4 separate regions of the Homo sapiens genome follow, and all the other regions are reported to be linked to region 4. Evidence: microRNA targets listed by miRTarBase, many of them from high-throughput screens and not tested one by one. Region 4 holds a microRNA gene; each other region holds the end of a gene's coding sequence.

Evidence for each region. Region 4 holds the annotated microRNA hsa-miR-1252-5p (AGAAGGAAAUUGAAUUCAUUUA, at 2,951-2,972, shown strand). A microRNA usually pairs through its seed, bases 2 to 8, with sites in the 3' UTR of a target mRNA and lowers its output. Matches are read on the target gene's strand: a 7mer-m8 pairs with bases 2 to 8, a 7mer-A1 pairs with bases 2 to 7 and ends in A, and an 8mer does both.
Region 1: miRTarBase lists IQSEC2 as a target of hsa-miR-1252-5p. Seed matches in the 3' UTR shown: 7mer-m8 at 2,375-2,381.
Region 2: miRTarBase lists TAF6 as a target of hsa-miR-1252-5p. Seed matches in the 3' UTR shown: 8mer at 2,788-2,795.
Region 3: the mRNA of TMEM214 is a reported target of hsa-miR-1252-5p. Seed matches in the 3' UTR shown: 7mer-m8 at 2,038-2,044.

What each region holds. Positions count from the first base shown.
Region 1 is chrX:53,231,660-53,235,379 of GRCh38, forward strand. IQSEC2 (IQ motif and Sec7 domain ArfGEF 2) reads right to left here. Exons shown (of 15, transcript NM_001111125.3): 15 at 1,217-3,525. The coding sequence ends at 2,560. Among named protein-coding and RNA genes, the nearest start is that of KDM5C, 8.3 kb to the left of the region's middle.
Region 2 is chr7:100,104,698-100,109,931 of GRCh38, reverse strand. It overlaps TAF6 (TATA-box binding protein associated factor 6), which reads left to right. Exons shown (of 15, transcript NM_139315.3): 13 at 1,392-1,565; 14 at 1,809-2,006; 15 at 2,309-2,862. The coding sequence ends at 2,686. AP4M1 (adaptor related protein complex 4 subunit mu 1) reads right to left here. Exons shown (of 15, transcript NM_004722.4): 8 at 4,992-5,058; 9 at 4,834-4,887; 10 at 4,586-4,692; 11 at 4,393-4,487; 12 at 3,929-3,973; 13 at 3,641-3,691; 14 at 3,418-3,529; 15 at 893-3,274. The coding sequence ends at 3,050. Among named protein-coding and RNA genes, the nearest start is that of AP4M1, 5.7 kb to the right of the region's middle. RefSeq lists an enhancer at 2,085-2,585.
Region 3 is chr2:27,039,101-27,044,864 of GRCh38, forward strand. It overlaps TMEM214 (transmembrane protein 214), which reads left to right. Exons shown (of 17, transcript NM_017727.5): 13 at 1-64; 14 at 641-737; 15 at 930-1,098; 16 at 1,245-1,396; 17 at 1,611-2,594. The coding sequence ends at 1,737. Among named protein-coding and RNA genes, the nearest start is that of AGBL5-AS1, 8.3 kb to the right of the region's middle. RefSeq lists enhancers at 1-909, 2,583-2,632.
Region 4 is chr12:79,416,311-79,422,074 of GRCh38, forward strand. It overlaps MIR1252 (microRNA 1252), which reads left to right and starts at 2,947; the gene lies at 2,947-3,011. All of the region lies in intron 9 of SYT1 (synaptotagmin 1), which reads left to right.

The sequences.
Region 1 (3,720 bases), not on the chromosome of region 4:
TTGGAAAAATGCAACCAGAATCAAGTTGAAGGTGGGGAAATGATCGTGCAGCTTGGTCCAGCAGGGAAGAAAACTAAAAAATGTTGATTGGACTTGATTCAGGACCCTGTGGGTCTAAGCTCTTCAAACCCTCAAGTCTGGTCCATGAGGCGGCATCAAATGCGTAGGTGGCCCCAGCTGCTGCTTTTGCTAGTTGTCTTCCCTGGGACACCTTTAAACATGCATACAAGGAAGAAAACAAAGAATTGGTCTGAGCTGCTAAGAGCGGGGCCATCCAAACCATTCCCTTTTAGAGGCCATTCCAGATTCTAGGAAGGCAGCAAAAACAGTAACTGAATGCTGCTTCTGGGGACCCTGCTGACTCTAACCAAGAACCATGGCTCAACCCCACTTCTCCTGCGCTAGGCTAAGATCCAGGACATAATCAGTGATGCTAGAAACACGTCCGTTTCGGAGGGAAGAGGTTTGGGAGGACTGGAAAGGGCCCTGGGGCTAGAAGTCAGGAAACCCCATCCTGACTTGCTGAGTGGCCTCGGGAGAGACTCTTCCCTTCTCTCAGCCTGTCCCCTTCTCTGTAAACGAAAGGGAGTCCAGCTCTTTGTTATCTGACATCCTAAGTGTATATGCAGAACTCTTAAAATGTATCTAGCCCTGTGCCTTCCAAATCACTCCCCTACCCTCAAGGATAGAAATGTGGCCAGCCATTGTGGGGATGAGGAGGAGCTCCAAGGCCAGGCCAGGCCAGCCACATCCAGGGTGAGAGGAGATGCCCCAAGAGTGGAAGGAAGCATTCATCCTATGAAACGAAGACAAGGGAACTAACTTGCTCAGCTCTGTCCTGGCTCCTTGGCACCCATTACCCCTGGGAATCATCATATCTCCATGTGGCAATGGCTTATCACCCCAAGTTTTACACTGAGGAAACTGAGACTCAGAGAGGGTGACTCTCCCGAATTCACATGCCTAGGAAGTGAAAACCCCAGGATGTGAACTGGATCAACTCCAAAGCCCATACTCTTGCCACTCTGTCGCACAAACTGTGTATGAAATGAGATAGGAAAACCTCCCTCACTCCCACCTCCCTCCAAGCAAAGCATCTCGTCCACCCAGGTGCCTGAATTTCTACCATTAGCGCATTGCCTCCCTGGGCTAAGGCCTCTCTCCATGGGCTCCACAGTGGGGAAGGGGCGCAGAAGTAGGAGGCAGAGGCAGGAGGTGAGCACAAGGTCTTTTATGAGGCATCAAATATACATTCTTATATACAAGGAGGAAAAAAGACAATGCCTGAACCCCAGCTCCTCTCCATACAGCCCCTCCCACTGCCACCCTCCCCCGCCCCCAAGCCCCAGTGGCCCTGGCCCTTCGTACAGCCAGGGTCCATCTGTCTGTCTATACTGCAGCCCATGGTGGAGAGGGGAGAGGGAGGCAGGAGCTGAGTGAGGAGCTGGATATGCGGGGCAAGAAGAGGAGCTGGGGCTTGTAAAAAATATATTTATAATAAATAAACAGGGCTGCAAAAGGGCTGGAGAGGCAGCGGAGATTCTGACGGACAGAAGGACTCAGGCATTCTGGCTCCCAACCCCAGCTCTGATGGCTTCAATCTCTGCCTCAGGAAGGATATCTTGGGCTCATGGTGGCCCTTTGGGAGCCTCTCTCCCCAGGGCTGATGCTGGGTGCCCCTGCCCCAGCGAGGTGTGTGTGGGTGATATCTGTAAAGTGCATTGTCTTCAGTTGTAGGTGGGGTAGGTGTAAGGGAATGGCGGGGGGGCATGCAATATGGGTGAGGGAGGGCAGTGCCCTTCTCATCCCAGACCTGAGCCCCCCCCAAAACCTGTCTGGACTTTGATCAGGATAAGAACGTTGCAGGGCGAGGCAAGTTCCTGAAGCCGAAGAGGTCTGGGCTGGGGCCTACTGGAGAAAGGGCATAGACTGGCTCGAGAGAGGAAGCACTGCCCCACGTGGGGCCAACACAAGCAGGGTCCCACCCACCAAGTGCATCAATGGTCCGTGTCCTCCAGCAGGCAAAAAGACACATGGAAGTGTGTGGCCAGGCCCTGAGGTCAGAGAGAGGGCCAAGCCAGCTGAAGTTTGGCCACAACTCTACAGAGCGCTCTCCTAGCCCCACACGGCCAGAGGAGCCCCAGGGAAGCCTTCACCCCGACAGCTCCGGACACCTGCCCTTCTCCGCCAGCCAGAGCTCACAGAGAGCTCACACAGGCCCAGAGGTCTGAGGCCACAGAGCTAGACCTCCAGGGAAAAGTGGGGAAGAAGAAGACGGGAGAAAGAGTACGAGGATCTCTGGAAGGCCCTCACCACTCCCCAGCGCTGGAGCACCCTGAGTCCAGGCTTCAAGTGGCAAGGATCCTCGAATCTGGAAGGAAACCCCATGGCAACTGCTGGGGGTGAGAGGACGGGTCCCAAGGCAGGGAGGACATGGGGAGGAGGACATTGCTATGTGTATATATATTTTTGAAAAAACCGAGGAAGCAAAGAGGGTGCAAGGTCCCTCTCCTGTGGCTCCCCAGACTTTCCTGTTCCCCAGCTCACTCTCTCCATTCATCAGACCACGGTGCTGATCCGGCTTGGCTTGGCCTTGGGGTTTGCACTGGGGGGGTTGGCTGTGCCAGGGGGCCCAGAGGCGTGCAGCGGGCCATGGGGGGAGGTGGGTGGAAGGGGTGAGTGCGGGGTGTGAGGGGAGGGTGGGGGGAGGGGTGGATAGGAGGGGTGGGGTGGGATGGGTGAGTGTGGTGACAATGGTGACTGGGGGTGGTGGGGGTGGGAGTAGGAGCCCCCTGGTGGCCGGGATCCAGGGCCCCCAGCCGCGCCTGCTGCTGGCATCATCTGTGGGTGGTGGCTGAAGATGAAGTGCTTAGGGCCCTGTTTGTGGGCTGGAGGGTGCTGGGGGGCAGGACTGTACAGGGGCAGTGGGGATGTGGGCTGGTGCAGGGGGTGGCGGCCATGTGGAGCAAACTGAGGGTGTCCTCCAGCCCCCCGTCTGGGTGCCCTGCCTGGCCGGCCCAAGGTATAGTGTTGGGGCCCTGGGACTGGGCCATGGGCGTGGAAGTGGCGATGTGGCCCCACAGGTGGGGCTGAGGCGGGAGGCGGTGGAATGGAGCCCAGCTGGGGCAAGGGTGGGGGCTGCTGGGGAGGTGGGGGAAGAGAGGGCTGCTGGGGTGGGAGGTAGGGTGGCGGGGCAGGGCCCGGTCCTTGGCAATACTGGGCATGCAGGGCCTGGAGCTTGGACTGCCCATCAGGCAGCACCCCCAGGCCACCGTGGCTATGGCCATGATGGTGGTGGTGGTGGTGGTGGTGCGTGGAAGAAGCAGATGAAGAGGAGGCAGAGGCCTGGCCTGTTGGCGGTGGTGGCATCTGGAAGGGCCCCTTGCCCCGCTTGCTTCCAAATAGGGAGCCCAGGAAGGATGAGGAGTTGGAGACGGGCCTCTGGCTCTTGTACTCCTCTGGCGGCGGGGGTGGGGGCGGAGGTGGCATCCTCTGGTGAGGGCGTGGACTGCTAATAACAGACCCCTGGAAGCGGGGAGGGGGGAAGTCAGGCCAGGCTAGATGCCCTAAACCCCCAGCCCTAAATTCCACCCCTGTCCCTGAGGGCTGGAGCTGGGGAGACAGCAAACCCCAAGTTGTAATAAAAACCAAATCACAGTCCGGTACGCGTATGTGGAGCTCCCCAGCTTGCAAAGCTCGGCTGTCACATCCACTATCTCA
Region 2 (5,234 bases), not on the chromosome of region 4:
TCCCCACACCTGCCCACTGAGACACAGGCAGTGTTTAGCAAGCATATGGCATATTTTATTCACTTACTCCCATCTTTGCCTCATGTTTTCAGAGGACATTGCAGAGTCTGATACTATTTTACAGATGGAAAGACTGAGATTAGACTGAGTAAGAAATAAGGGGGCTGGGCATGATGGCTTCTGCCTGTAATCCCAGCACTCTGGGAGCCTAGGAGTATGAGGCCAGCCTGGACAACGTAGCGAGATCCCACCTGCAAAAAAAAAAACCAAAAAGCCGGGAGTGGTGACGTGTCTGTGGTCCCAGCTACTAGGGAGGCCGAGGTGGGAGGATTGCTTGAACCCAGGAGTTCAAGGCTACAGAGAGCTATGATCGTGCCACTGCACTCCAGCCTGGGTTACAGAGGGAGACCACCGCCCCCCAAAAAAGAAGGGTTTAACACGCTCAGCCTGTGGCATTTGGACCATCCTTCCCCAATGCTCCTGTTACTCTGTGGTCTTCTCTGTACAAGGCAAATGCGCTCTTGATTAACCATCCTGCCACAGTATTTAGCAAGTTCATTCACACATTAGTGCCCATGTTTTCTTTTTCTTTTCTTTTTTTTTTTTTGAGATGGAGTCTCACTCTGTAACCCAGGCTGGAGTGCAGTGGTGCGATCTCAGGCTCACTGCAACCTCTGCCTCTCAGGTTCAAGCAATTCTCATGCCTCAGCCTCCCAAGTAGCTGGGACCACAGGCACGCGCCACCATGCCTGGCTAATTTTTTGTATTTTTAGTAGAGACGGGGTTTCACCATATTGGCCAGGCTGGTCTTGAGCTCCTGACCTCAGGTGATCTGCCAGCCTCAGCCTCCCAAAGTGCTGGGATTACAGGCATGAACCACCACACCCAGCCATTCTTTTTTTTTTTTTTCTGAGACAGTCTCACTCTGTCACCCAAGCGGGAGTGCACTGATGCAACCTCTGCTCACTGCAGCCTCCACCACCTGGGTTCAAGCATTCTAGTACCTCAACCTCCCCAGTAGCTGGGACTACAGGTGCGTGCCACCATGCCTGGCTAGTTTTTGTATTTTTAGTGGAGATGAGGTTTCTCCATTTTGGCCAGGCTCTTGACCTCAAGTGATCCACCCACCTCAGCCTCCCAAGTGCTGGGATACAGGCCTAAGATGCTGCACCTGGCCCCGTGCCCATCTTTTCTTATGAGAAAGCCCACAGTGTTCTGTACACACACTAATAGTTCAGCATAATTTGGCCTTCAACAGGGGCACTGAGATGATAAGGAATGTCCTTTTTTACCCCATCCCCAAGGTTCTTCTCAAGAGTGTCACCAGCCCTCCCTCTACCTGGCTTTTTTCCCCAGCCCTCCCTCTACCTGGCTTTTTTTCTGTTCTGCAGAAACACTGTGCTCCTGTTCTGGCAAAGCTGCGCCCACCGCCTGACAATCAGGACGCCTATCGGGCAGAATTCGGGTCCCTTGGGCCCCTCCTCTGCTCCCAGGTGGTCAAGGCTCGGGCCCAGGCTGCTCTGCAGGCTCAGCAGGTCAACAGGACCACTCTGACCATCACGCAGGTCCGTGGCCGGGTGGGGAGGAGGAATAGGAGGAAGCAGAGGAGAACCCCTGTGTGGGACAGGCACTTGCACACAGCCACATGTGCCCTCAGTCAGTAGTCTCAGGGCAACCAGGCCCTGAGTGAGGATGCCCCAGCCCTAGTGAGAGCCACTGAGGAAGAGCGAGGGGAGCCCAGGCCTCTCCCTTCAGACTCCTCTTCTTAGTAGATGGTGCCACTTCCCCCTTTCCTCTTCTCCCCGCAGCCCCGGCCCACGCTGACCCTCTCGCAGGCCCCACAGCCTGGCCCTCGCACCCCTGGCTTGCTGAAGGTTCCTGGCTCCATCGCACTTCCTGTCCAGACACTGGTGTCTGCACGAGCGGCTGCCCCACCACAGCCTTCCCCTCCTCCAACCAAGTTTATTGTAATGTCATCGTCCTCCAGCGCCCCATCCACCCAGCAGGTATGCAGAGCTGTGGGACAGGGAGCATCTGGAGGGCCTGGGTTACCTCAGAGCACCCTGGGGAGGCCCAGGAGTAGAGCACAGTCCCCTCTGGGCCCCAAGTCAAGAGCTGGAAGAGGCGCCCACCAGGGTCCTGCAGGGCTGTAGCTGCCCTGCATGAACAAGGTCTCCAGCCATAGCTGTCTACAGGGTGAACTACAGGAACAACTTGTTCAGGCAGGGAGCGAGTGAAGCGTCCTCGCCAGGCCTCTGGGGGGCAGGGAGGGCACAGGGCAAGCGGCCTGCCTTTCCTTTCTATCCAGGTCCTGTCCCTCAGCACCTCGGCCCCCGGCTCAGGTTCCACCACCACTTCGCCCGTCACCACCACCGTCCCCAGCGTGCAGCCCATCGTCAAGTTGGTCTCCACCGCCACCACCGCACCCCCCAGCACTGCTCCCTCTGGTCCTGGGAGTGTCCAGAAGTACATCGTGGTCTCACTTCCCCCAACAGGGGAGGGCAAAGGAGGCCCCACCTCCCATCCTTCTCCAGTTCCTCCCCCGGCATCGTCCCCGTCCCCACTCAGCGGCAGTGCCCTTTGTGGGGGGAAGCAGGAGGCTGGGGACAGTCCCCCTCCAGCTCCAGGGACTCCAAAAGCCAATGGCTCCCAGCCCAACTCCGGCTCCCCTCAGCCTGCTCCGTGATGCTCCACCTGCCAGCCCCCGGATTCCCACACATGCAGACATGTACACACGTGCACGTACACACATGCATGCTCGCTAAGCGGAAGGAAGTTGTAGATTGCTTCCTTCATGTCACTTTCTTTTTAGATATTGTACAGCCAGTTTCTCAGAATAAAAGTTTGGTTTGTAAGTTCTGATCCACTGCAGTCCTTCCTGCATCAGATACCACAGAAAGGCTGGGCCCATTGCCCCCTCCTGGTCTTGGGACTGAGGACTCTTCCTGCCCAGATTCAGAGTCCGAAGGCCAGGAGGCTGGAAAAGAAACGACTGTCCTCCCGTGGGACAAACTGCCACCTTGGCCGTCGTGTCCTCGTTTGGGGAGCCTCAGATCCGAATGACATAGGCGTCGCTGTGGCTTAGGTGTCGCACCCACTTGTGGGGGTTGGCATTGCCGCATGGCCTGAAGGCCAGCCTGAGGAATCGGACCTGGAGGCCAGAGCACGTGTGCCGGGGAAGCTCGAAGGAGAGACTGGCAGGGCCCAGCCCCAGAGGAGAGGCCGAGGTGGAGAGCCCATGGCTGGGAGGTCCTGGGGGCCCTGGGACGTCCATCTGTGAGGGGCAGAGGCAGGGAGAGGAAGGAGGGCAAGAAGCTGACCACGCTGGGGGAACCAGGCAGCAGCTGCTTCGGGAGGGTGGGGTGGGGGCTGCAAGTGAATGTGGGAGGAGAGGGGCTGGGGGTCCACAGCGAATACCTGGAAAAGGCCTGAGAGTTGAGAGCCTCCTTGCACCCGAGGCAGGTCCCAGCGAAGGGCTCCCTCTGCCAGCTCAGCCTTCTGCTCTGGGCTGCTCAGCTCCTGAGACAGGCTGGAGTTTGGAAAGGGAAGGTGCTGGGCTTGGCACCTTCTTGAGGCAGACCCGTCATGCTGAGCTCACTCTCTCCCCAGGAATCTCCCCGTGGTGGGTGCACACACTCACCTGACCACCCCTCGAGGCAGGGGGAGGTGCAGCCTGACATTGAGGGCTTGGCTACAGAGGAGACGGGAACAAAGTCAGCCCCAGGAAGGCACAGTCCCTTGTCCTGTTCCTCTTCAATGTCATAACAGGATTTCAGCACAGGTGCCCCCCACCTTCCCAAATTCTACAGCCTCTACCTTAACTGGCTTCTGAGGCTGGCAGCTGCATCTGAAGGGAGAAGCAGCAGGTGCCCTGGCCCTGTCTTCCGTCCCATAGAGCTGAACTCAGCCAGGCCAGCCTCACTCTTACCTCTTTGAGAGCAGGTCACATCGCAACTTTAGATAAACCTGGAGCCTGGATGAGAGGGTAAAACACCACGACTCAGGCCATCTTCTACTGGCATCTCACCATTCCCCACCAGGGACCTCCATGTGGGGCTGTGTGGGTGTGGGCTGTACTCCCAAGAGGGAAAAGGGCTGAAGCCCAGCCCAACTCCATTAGCCAAAGCTTTTTCCTTTTTTTTTTTTTCAGAGAGATGGGGTCTCACTATGTTGCCCAGGCTGGTCTGGAACTCCTGGGCTCAAGTGATCCTCCCGCCTCAGCCTCCCAAAGTGCTAGGATTACAGGTGTGAGCCACCGGCCGCAACCCAAGCCTTTTTCCAATTTGCACTCCATCACCACTACCACCACCCCCACTCTGCAGTGAGTCTTGGGAACATACAGGTCTTGGCTTGGGTTCCAAGGTAGTTCTAGAACCCAGGAAATTGTCTCACCGGCCTGAGCCTCGGTCCCACTGCACAGAGGGGAAGAGCCGGAAGGGGAGCGGTGAGGGGAGGTCATCGGAGAGTTGGTACCGCATCACAGTCAGCTGAGAGACCAGAGAGCAACAAGGTTAGTTTGGTCTCACGACCCCACTGCCCCCTTCCCCATGGTGGACGGAATTTATGAGGCCACCCCAACCCTGACCTCGCCCTGAGGTGGTTGCAAGCGGAGGATTCGATGAGACTCAAATTCGTCCAGATTCACAGAGCTGTGAAACGAGACTTCATCGACCCGGATTCCTGGCCCATAACCTGGAAAGAGAGAGAGAGAGACTTCTCTCCTGACTCCTGTTTTGGGAGAGGAGCAAGGAGAGGGGAGGCTCTGTCTGACTTCTCTCCATGAACTCTGGCAATGACCTACTCCAAGGGGAGAAAGACCCACTTTCTCCTCACCTCTCAGCTCTGACTTCCCCACACAAAACTCTTCCGTCAAGCCAATGCGCATCTCTGTCGGAGGAGAGACCATCAGGAGAGCTCAGCAATGCCATGGTTTAAGACACCAAGGAACCCGCCCTAACCCCAACCCTTGGTCCTGCCTGCAGATGCCTCACCAGAGCCGCTAGGAAGGAAGCTCTTGAGCCGAATCTCTCCCTGCACATCCACCTTCAGCAGGGATCCCTGAGAGGCAGGGGCGTCAAGGTTAGAGTCTTTTTTTCTTTCTTTTTTTGAGACGGTCTCGCTCTGTCGCCCAGGCTGGCAGTGGCGTGATCTCGGCTCACTGCAACCTCCACCTCCCAGGTTCAAGACATTCTCCTGCCTCAGCCTCACAAGTAGCTAGGGTTACAGATGCCTGC
Region 3 (5,764 bases), not on the chromosome of region 4:
TTGCTGCTGGTCTTCGCTGTAGGCTTCCTGTGCCATGACCTCCGGTCACACAGCTCCTTCCAGGGTAAGCAGCAATGGGCAAGCGAGGAGGATGGTGTGGGCGGGGCACAGAGCTACACGTAGCACCACCACCCCGCCCCCAGCAGCACACATCTTTGTCCTGACGAGTTCTCAATCCTGCAGAGTAAACACTTTACAGACAGATTTTTTTGTCCACAGATATGACACTACCATTTCAGATTGGACTAGGACTTCGCAGTATAGAAGTGCTTGCATATTCATAGTATCATTTTAGTAGGTGTTACCTCCTTTTAACTCCTGAGGAAATGGTCTCAGAAAGATGTAGCAATTAGCTTTAGGTCATAGCTAGTAAGTAGAAGGGCAGACCCTCAACCTGAGGCTTCCTGAAGCCTGAGCCTAGGCTCCAACCGGCAGCTGCATTCCTGCACACCTGGCCCAGCAGGAGAAGGGCAGCTCTGCATGCCTCCCTCCACAGCAGCCTGGAGCTGGCTTTGTGGCCCTGTGAGAACACAAAGCTCTGCCCAGCGCCTCGCTGTGCCTGCTCTGGGCCCTGTAGTGTCTGTCTCCCCAGTCCCTGCCCCTCTCACCTCCCAGCTCACCAGAGGCCCCCTTTACTTAGCCTCCCTTACTGGCCGGTTGCTTCGATCATCTGGCTTCTTACCTGCTAGCCAACAAGCGTGTGCCAAGCTCTACTCCTACAGTCTGCAAGGCTACAGGTGAGCTCCTCCCAGGGAGGGGAGAGGAGAGGCAGAAGAGAGAAGGCCTGGGTGTCAGGGAGGAGGCGACAGTCAGTGGGAAGCGCTTGTGATTCTCCTTTCCCACGGCCTCCCTTTCCCCAGCTGTTTCTTGGGAGCTAAGTGGGCCTGAGGAGACTCAGAGCCCTCTTCCCCCACTTCCATCTTCCACAGCTGGCTGGGGGAGACACTGCCGCTCTGGGGCTCCCACCTGCTCACCGTGGTGCGGCCCAGCTTGCAGCTGGCCTGGGCTCACACCAATGCCACAGTCAGCTTCCTTTCTGCCCACTGTGCCTCTCACCTTGCGTGGTTTGGTGACAGTCTCACCAGTCTCTCTCAGAGGGTAAGTCAGAGACAGGGAGTCAAATAAGGGGCTGGTTTTCCCAGGAGCAGAATTCTGGGAAAGGAGCAGCACTGTGTGGCCTGAGTCTTTAGGGCCAGGATGCAGTTCCCTGGATACTCTGACCCCATCCATTCTCCATGGTCCAGCTACAGATCCAGCTCCCCGATTCCGTGAATCAGCTACTCCGCTATCTGAGAGAGCTGCCCCTGCTTTTCCACCAGAATGTGCTGCTGCCACTGTGGCACCTCTTGCTTGAGGCCCTGGCCTGGGCCCAGGAGCACTGCCATGAGGCATGCAGGTGAGACCTTTGCCCAGGGCTCCGGCAGGATCCCCAGCAGCCCCATTCCCGGGCCCCAGGGACAAGCCATCTCTATCCAGTCTCCCACACTGTCCTGCCCCTCGCTCCCATTCCTGGCCACCCTGGGATGAGGGTTGTGGGTCTAAGCTTTCATCCCCGAAAGTTGACACAGCTACTCACGTGCATACTCAAAAATGTTCCACTTTCCTTCCAGAGGTGAGGTGACCTGGGACTGCATGAAGACACAGCTCAGTGAGGCTGTCCACTGGACCTGGCTTTGCCTACAGGACATTACAGTGGCTTTCTTGGACTGGGCACTTGCCCTGATATCCCAGCAGTAGGCCCTGCCTTCCTGGCCACTGATTTCTGCATGGGTAGACCATCCAAGACTGCAGCGGGTAGAAGGTGGCAGTTCTTCATGGGAGTCTTTTTAACTTGGTGCCTGAGTTCTCTCCTAGGCAAGTGGCCAGTTGCCTCCACCTCAGTTCTTCCATCTTTGGTGGGGACAGGGCCCAGCAGCATCTCAGCCTCCTACCCACAATTCCACTGAACACTTTTCTGGCCCTACTGCACATGGCCCCCAGCCTCCATCCTTGTGCTGGTAGCCTCTCACAACTCCGCCCTTGCCCTCTGCCTTCCACTTCCTTCCATCTCATTTCTAAACCCCAAACAGCTCATCTCTAAAAAGATAGAACTCCCAGCAGGTGGCTTCTGTGTTCTTCTGACAAATGATTCCTGCTTCTCCAGACTTTAGCAGCCTCCTGTTCCCATTCTTGGTCACAGCTCTAGCCACAGCAGAAGGAAAGGGGCTTCCAGAAGAATATAGCACCGCATTGGGAAACAGCAGCCTCACCTCCACCTGAAGCCTGGGTGTGGCTGTCAGTGGACATGGGGAGCTGGATGGAAATGCCTCTCACTTCAAAATGCCCAGCCTGCCCCAAATGCCTCTAAGCCCCTCCCTGTCCCCTCCCTTGTAGTCCTACTTCTTCCAACTTTCCATTCCCCATCATGCTGGGGGTCTTGGTCACAAGGCTCAGCTTCTCTCCACTGTCCATCCCTCCTATCATCTGTAGAGCAGAGCACAGGCAGTTGTGTGCCTTGGGCCCAGGGAACCCTCCATCAACCTGAGACAGGACTCAGTATATGGTTCTTGGGTATGCCCTACCAGGTGGAATAAAGGACACAGATTTGATTTCTAGCATTCTTGTCTGCATCCTCATATAGAAATTCCCCTAGTTATGGTTCAGAATAACAAAATCCTGGGCCCTTGCCCTCCTGAAGACTGTAGCCGTGGCTGTAATTAAGCTCCTGGTGGGGGAAGCCCACACACATGGTTCTAAAGTTTGACCTGGTGGGTGTTCTAGACACTTCTCTTGCTACCCTAATTATAGTGTCTGACTTGTCACTGTGATTCACGTCCCAGATTTGCCTTGATAGTTTTACGCTTAGAAAAGCAGGGGGCCGTCTCCTAGGGGAATTCTTGGCCAGTGACCAGGAGGTGTCCTTTCCTTGCCAGGACCTTCATTTTATAGAGCAGTGAGTGAAAGATTTAGAACTCCAAGGGACACATGAGTCCAAGGTTTATCACCGAAGCCCCTTTTTATTTTTGACTTGAGACTATAAGGAGTTAGATAACTCTGCTGGTTTCTTAGTTCTCAATTTTGTTTCCTTAAATGTTTCAAGTCAGCAGTACTAGAGATACGCTCTAGCAGTTCTCAAAGGCAGATTCAGCTTCCCTCATAAACTCCCATGACACTCAGCAGGTATGATGGCCAGTTATCACTTCCCCTCTCACACGGTGCCCTGAGACACTCCGCTTTTTCAGTGGTTCGAATATAAAGTAGCAGATGTAGGAAAGTATCGACCCAAAGTGAGGTCATGAATACAACAGCATCTCGTGTTCGCTACGTTTCCTCTGGAATTAGCCCACAAGCAGACCCCTTGCTCTCCTAGTGGCAATTAACCATGACCATCTTCCTGGAGAAGAGAAACTACCTGGCAAAGGGCCAAAGTCTTAGGACTGCTGGGCAGGAGAACTGGCCTGTGTTCAAGGTGAGTTGGAGAAAGGTGGCAGTTGTGAGAATGGGTTGACAATGGCACAGGGAGGACAAGTTCGGTGATAACTGTTGTAGAAGTCCAAGGCTGCATCCAGCGAACCAAGGATGCCACAAGTGCTGTGTTGGCTTCTAATGTGTGACTATATTTACCTTGCTGGGTTCATTTAACTTCTGACACTAAAATCCTGGGGAGCAACATTTTTCATCAACTTAGATTAATTGTGGTCTCTACTTACAGGAACACTGACAGCTTAATTGACTTTATTCGATAGATACAGTTTTTTGACCCAATGTTGAAATTGTCGGAAATTTTTCCTGTGTGGTGGACTAGTCCAATACGCACCTGCTCTGCATTAAAGCAAAACCAGATGTCCAGACATTTCATTTTTGCAGAGCTGTCAACAAACAGGAGTCCAAGCGGGGCCAGTAAATTGAACCAGCATAGGACAGTGATGCTGACAGGTGGGGCAGTCACACTGTAACTATTGCTGTTATTGGAAGAACCAAAAGGAGCTGACACCTCAGAGAGTCACACATCTGGACAGTAACTCCACACAGCTGAAGTTCAACCGATAACACACCATAAAGCTGAAGGGCAGTTATGAGTATGTTTATTTCTTACTAACTTTATTACCAGTTCTTTTGTGGACTTGAAAATAATATGCATGACTCACTTTGAAACATCCTTTCGTTTTCCTAAGTCTCCAGCAGATTTCTGGATTTCTCTGGTTATTTGTATCCAATCCACACTTCAGTTCTAGAGCAGGGCAGCTTGATGGGTAGCCTGACTTACTACGATGGATGTCACTAGGCAGATAGTGTTGCTGAGCTCATGCCTGCTACATTGTCAGTCCATTCACAAAATGCCACCACCATAAAGAGGGCGGGTTGTTTCCCACAGAGCCAGGCACACCTGCCCTGCCCTGTTACAGAATGACCCAGTGTCAATTACACAGGCATTTGTTTTTTGTTTTAAAGAAACGGGGTCTTGCCCTGTTGCCCAGGCTGGAGTGAAGTGGTTCGTGATCATAGCTCACCGCAGCCTCAAAATCCTGGGCTCAATGATCCTCACACCACAGCCTCCCGAGTATTTGGGCCTACAGATGCGTGCCATGCCCGCCTCCTTTTTTAAAAATTTTTTGTAGAGATGGCTCCTCACTATGTTGCCTAGGCTGGTCCCATTGATTATAGGTTCATTGATTCATATAATCAGTAAACTCCAGGTCTCTAGTGATCCTCCACCTTGGCTTCCCAAAGTGTTGGGATATTACAGGCATGAGCCGCCGTGCCCGGCCCTATACAGACATTTCAGTGGTTCAATGACCTCTGAGCATTTTGTTGTCTTACCTCACCTAAAGGAGTTTAAATTTAAGTGGACACTTAGAGTGATCTGTTTTTACTACATACCCTTCACAGTTGTTGAGGGGAGAAAGGGCCTTGCTTTTCCCTATGTGTATTCCCTTTATACTGGGCAGTTTTGGTGCTCTACTTGAGGTATAAGAAGGATTTTGGAGGGAGTGTCCACTGTTCAGGGTATGAGTGAATATTTAGTAAATATTGACTATTCTGCCTATTAATACAAATGTTGACTTTGAATGTGTTGTTGGATGTGCCTTGATATAACTTCTTTTTGTGTTAGCACATCACTTACTAATTTTTGAATAGACTTTTTTTTGTTTGTTTGAGACAGAGTTTTGCTCTTGTTCCCCAGGCTGGAGTACAATGGCGTGATCTCGGCTCACTGCAACCTCCGCTTCCCAGGTTCAAGTGATTCTCCTGCCTCAGCCTCCCAAGTAGCTGGGACCACAGGTGCCCGCCACCACGCCAAGCTAATCTTTTGTATTTTTAGTGGAGAGGGGGTTTCACCATGTTGGCTAGGCTGGTCTCAAACTCCTGACCTCAGGTGATCCACCCGCCTTGCCCTCCCAAAGTGCTGGGATTACAGGCATGAGCCACCATGCCTGGCCTGAATAGACTATTTTTTAGAGCAGTTTTAGGTTCACATCAAAATTGAGTGAGAGTTTCCATATATTTCCTCCCCAACCCGCCCCCACCACAGCCTCCCCCACCATCAACATCCCATACTGCTGTGGTACATTTGTTGTAATCAATGAACCTACATTGACACATCGTCCATAATGTAAGTCCATAGCTTACATTAGGGTTCGCTATCTGCGTTGTACACTCTGTAGGTTTTGATAACTGTCCAATAGCATGTATACACCATTATATAGAAGAGTTTCACTGCCATGAAAATCTCCTGTGCTCTACCTATTCCTCCCTCCCTTCTTCCCCCAGAGCCGAAGGAACC
Region 4 (5,764 bases):
GTCCCTTAGGAAATGATGGCAGCAAGACCAGACGGCAAAAACAAAAAGTTGAACATCTTTGCCATTTTCATTTCATGTCCAAATGCTTCTTAGAAACATACAACCTTATTGGCATTAACATTTTGACATTTTATGTATAGATCCTCTTCTAAATAGAGTTTAGGTTTATATTCATATTATTGTAGTAAAATAACAGATGATCACTATTTTTTCAAAGATTAAAAAATATGACTCAGAAAAATGCGAGCATTGGTAATTTAGTTTTGGGCTTTGTCAAATATCTTTTAAAAAACTCAGCTAATAATACACTAAGGCTTCTCATACATAATTTGTATTGTTGATTAAAACCTAAGAATGGAAAGAAAAGGCTAAGTCTAATTTTTTTGCTAAAAGAATGAGTAAAAAGTAATCAGCCATGTTAATATTTCAAACAGCAAACTATTTGAAATGCATTTCTGCTTTGAAAGGAAAATTTGAGATGAACAAGTTCTATTATACACTATTGATAAAGAAAGAAGATATAAAAGGTACAATATACTCTTAAAAATGATTGCACTTTCAAGGAAACATAAAAGAATAGCTTCTTTTTTGGCCAGTAAGAAAACTGAAGCCCTGTGTAGTCATAAATAGCAAAAATACAACGAAAATCCTAATATGTGTGTGTGTGTGTTTTCTCTTCTTCAAGATTCCTATAATATCTAACAATGATATATTTGTAACTTACTCTGAATTGCAAAGCATGTATCAATTGTCAGTTATCAAAAGTGTCTCTGAAAATTTGAGGTAGCAAAAAACAAAGAAACAATGAACATGTTCATTTAGTCTTCCCTGCTTTTACAATTTGTCATTGAAACCTGTGTCTTCCTCCTAATCATATTTTCTTAAATTGTACTTTTATTTAGGATTTGGTGATTGAGAGTTTGCGTTTTCTGTTTGCTAGTTGATTGCTTAGGTGGCCAGGTGGTTGGTTTCTCTTCATCCAATTGCATACAATGTATTTCTAAAAGGATTTTTAAGGAAATGTGGAATATCATGTAGTAATATGCCCTGTTGCTCATTCCTCCTAAATCTCTCTCTTATCTCCACCTCTGCCTCCTTTCCCGCAACCTGCCTTGGTTTAGGCCCTCACCACTTCTCTACTGATGACAACAGCCTCTCAAAGCCCAGCCCCCTTGGCTCCTGCCTTGACGTTACTACCAATGGCCTCATCCTAAAGCAAAAATCTCATTATGCCTCTCTCCTGTTTAAAATATTTAATTGGTTTTAATTAGCTTCTCACTACCTTCATGATGAAATTCGAATTCCTTAGAATGCTCTGCAAGCCCTTTCATGACAAGGTCCAGGCCTGCCTCTCCAAATGGCATCACTTGTAAATGGCATCATTTACCCTATGCTCCAGCAGTAATAACACTATGCATTCACACAGGGGAGGTTTTGTGGGTGTCAGTGCTCTCCCTGAACTGTCATCATAGTATCCCCCCACTCCCACCCCCCACTTCAACCTGGAGAACCTCTAAAGTTGTGCTTTTCTGTTTTTCTTTTGCATATCATGTCCTGAGAATCTTGTTAAAAAGACTTTACTTCTGTGGGCCTAAGATGGGGCCCGATGTTCTGCATTTCTAATCAGTTCCCAGGCAATGCTGGGAACACATATTGAAGACAAAGCTGAAAAACCTTACTCTACCGTTACTCCCTCTGTGAAAAACTCTCCTGCAAAGCTGATCTACACAAAGCGTCCTCTTTCTAATGTTTATGACTTGTATATAGAACATGTACAGGTCTTCTTAGATGTCTCATGTCTTATTTAATTACTTGGTTATAGGTCTGTCCCTGTAATCACTTGTCCATCATCAAGGGCTGGAACAGTGACTGCTGCTCCTTGTAGTCCCAGCGCTAACATTTGGTCCAGATGTATAGGAATTTCCTAGAAGTATTTTGCATGGAAATTAGCGAAAATTTTTCACTTGGTGCCCGAATGATCATTTCATAAGGTGTTGTTAAAAATGTCCACTGGATGGAAGGTTACACTAACTTTTTAGCTCTCAAATTCGTGGTTTTTCTTTATGTTATTGACAATCTCTCCAATGGGGTTTTGGTTAGGGGGAGGCTTAAAAGTAATTGATTTATGATTCTTTTAACCAACATGTAAGTCAAGAGGCTGGCCAAGAGTTTGAAGAGCCCGAACCTGTTAGACAGTAAACCAATTATCTTTGTGACCTTGTGGGTGACTTCACCACCCCCACTGCATAGCACAGCCCTGCCTGTTTCCAAAACACCTGGCCTTGCACAAAAGAATGAAGAAAGAGCCAAGGCACAGAGAATATTCTCCAGCAGAGAGTTTGGGCAAGAAGTCTTAAAGATGTCTGAGTAGAGAGACAATTAGTGGAAACAAACATCTGTCCAAGGTCTCTCCCATCATGTCATGAACTTGACAAGAAAGGCCAGCAGTAACTCTTCCAACCGTGGTAACCAATGGCCCTGAAATGTGTTCAATATCAGGTATATCAGAGCCCGAGAGATAAGAGTGGTTTTCAATGCTGTATGCACGTTAGAATCACCTGGGAAGTGATATTTGTAAAATATGAACACCTGAGGCCCCACCCCAGAACAGCTAATTCAGAATTTCTGGGGGAATGGCCAAGGGGTCAGTAGATTTTAAAACTCAGGTGATTATACTGTGAAGCCAGAGTTAACAACCACTGATAGAGGGTAGTACCTTCTTCCCCTATAGGTGCCTCAGAAGTGAACATCTAACTTCAGCTTACACATCCCACTAATTGACCACTGAGTCTTACTTATTTTAGGCAAAACGAAACCAATAGAAAGTTTTGCCTTTTCTCTATGTAGAAGGGACTAATGATTCTATAAGAATTTTTAAATTTCTACTCACATTTCCCATCACACAGTTGTTGAGAAATTGGTAAGTTGAGAAAAAATGTGAGGTGTAGAAAGAAGGAAATTGAATTCATTTAGAAAAGAGAATTCCAAATGAGCTTAATTTCCTTTTTTCTAAATCTTAATAATCTACCTTGCTTTTCTTCTCCTTCCACTGCACCCTTTCTCCATGAATTCATCAGTCATAGTGGTAAGCTCACAGTATCCGGCAGCAGGTCAGGTGGGATCACACTGGCTAACAAAGGATCTGAGGGTACAATGCAGAAGTTGCCAGATAATGGGATTCAATTACATTTCTAAGCATAGACTTCTCCAGTGTTGGCTGTTACACTGCCCAATGTGGAAAAGCACTGCTTTATCTACATGGCAAGTGCTTCATACATTTTAGTTGAATCTGACTCGGAGTACCTCAATTTTTTTAATGAAATATTTGAGGTCTACAATAGTAAGTATAAATAATAATATAATGAAGACTCTTGTACCTATCACACTAAAGAAATAAAACCTAACATCTATAATCAAAATAGCCTATGTCCTCTTTATCTCCTTTCTCTCATTCTCTCCTCAGAGGTAACTGTTACCTTGAATTTATGATTCCCAACCCTGTTTTCTCATTTTGTTTGTCATTCCAATGTATGTTTTTATGACACACACAGTTTTGGTTTTGTATGTTTTCAGCCATATAAATGGCACTTTACTGTATGTATTTTGTGCATTTTCAAGCTTTATATAAATTGTATCATATATCCTTCTGCAACTTGACTCCATATTTCATTCTTGGGATGTATCTGTGTTGATTAAAGTAACGTTGTTACTTTTTATTGCTGTATAACATGCCATGGTAGGTAAATACCCCAGTTGGTCAGCTAATGGATTTTTGAATTGTTTCTAATCTCTTGCTGTCACAGACAATACAACATAGCTCCTTGTGCAAATGTGGGTGAGTATTTCTAGATATTTACATAAGAGTGGGATTGCTGGAATGTAGGGTATGCACAATTTTTAAATTTCCTAGATGTATTAAATAACACCCCAACCAGAAGTGTGTGAGCTTTCCTATTGCTCATATCCTTGCCATGTTGGCACTGTTAGACTTTTAAATGTTCAGCCAATTTTAACTGGTGAGTTTTCCCTTAAAAACCCTGAAGAGGGCAGCATATCCTGGTAATTGCTGCATCTTATACCTGCATTCCAGTTTATGGGTCCCTCCCTTCTTTACTGGTTGAAATCCTTTGACCTCAGTTACTCTTCAACCCACTCTCTCACCTCAGTCAGCTCTGGGCAGTATCTTAGAAGGACAGACAATATAACACTATCTCAAAGCTGAAAGTTACCTCCAGCTTTTTCATTCCACATTCCTGGCACACTTCTGTCCTCTGACAAGGAGGAGGTAGGGAAACAGAAACAAGTCAGTCTGGAATTAAAACACTTTTTCCAGTTCAAAGTAGCACAAGAGAGATATGATGTGAGTAGAGAGTAGTCTTCCACCATTCTAAAGCAGTGGTTTGTAATCTAAATAGAAGGGCATTGCACACTATCAAAAACTATGCTTATGTAAATGGGAGAAATACTGAGAAGTAGGAAAAAGTATTGCAAAGTGGTAGTAGCATTGTTTTTCTTCTAGAATAAAAGATATTTACTCCTTTGCCTTCTCAGTTACATTGTTCCTGGTTCCCTAAGGAAAAAAAAAGTGTTCAGCTTCAGAACATCTCCTAGAATTTCTCTCGTTTAATACCAAGCTAAAGTCCTGCCACTTCCAGAGTTCCACAGTGGGAATGCAACCTTCACAAAGATGCTTTCCTTTAAACAAAGCAGATGTGAAATTGAGCCATGCTTAAAGATTTGACATGGCTGCTTTAGGAGGGAATTTATTGTTAGTACTTTCAAAGTAGACCTAAAAACACCACTCTGCTTTTTTTATTCCTGAACTGGATTTTAAGATCGTATTGCTTTAAAATAAATGAATGAATAAATAATAACATTTTATTTTGGGGAGGAGGAAGTAGAAAAATAAATATGAATTGTTTTGGAATTGATTGCTATTTTGAGTTATTAAATTGTTTTCCCATCCATTGTGGTAGATGAAACTTCCTCCAAATGAGATCTGCTGCTTTTTCATTACTGTCTTGAACTCTTTTATATGCTGGTGTGTTTTATAAATTTCTAAGGTGCGCCATTTAGAGAGTCTGTGCTTCTGAACTGTTTGACCATAGTTTCCTTGTTCAAGGAACACCTCACTGGAGTTCAAAGGTCACACTTTGGAAAAATGCTAGCATAGCTATTCTAAAGGTGGCTACACCATCATTACTAACCATTCTGGCCAGAAATTCACAAGACCCAATTATATGTCATCTTGACTGAAATTCTTTCATGATAGAATATCTGTCTTGACATGTTGGTTGGTATACATATTGCTCTTGCATTGAATGCTGTTATGGAGACATTTGAAGCCAGTCTAATTTTTGCTTTATCCAATGTGACACTTTTTTTGTTTTTTTGTTTTCTGTTTTTTTTTTTTATTGTTGGTGGTGGTGGGTGTTTTTGTTTGTTTGTTTGTTTTCTCAAATTCCCAAGGAATGTCTTTATACTTGAATTGTAAGTATTCAATCAGGGCTGTGTTAAGCATTCTGTTACCAGTATTTCCTAGAACATGGTATGTTCTTTCAATCTATAAATGTGGTTATTCTTTCTCTTTAGTGAAATTTCCTTGTGTGGTATTTGTGAATACTTTTCCTGTTCCATTTATTGAAACTTCTCCTTCAGGGACATCAATTTCCTCATGTTAAGTGCTTTTGAACTCCAATCTGTCACCTTCTAATTCCTTTGGTTCCCTTGTATTTACAAGCCATTCCTCGAGGCCGGTAATTTT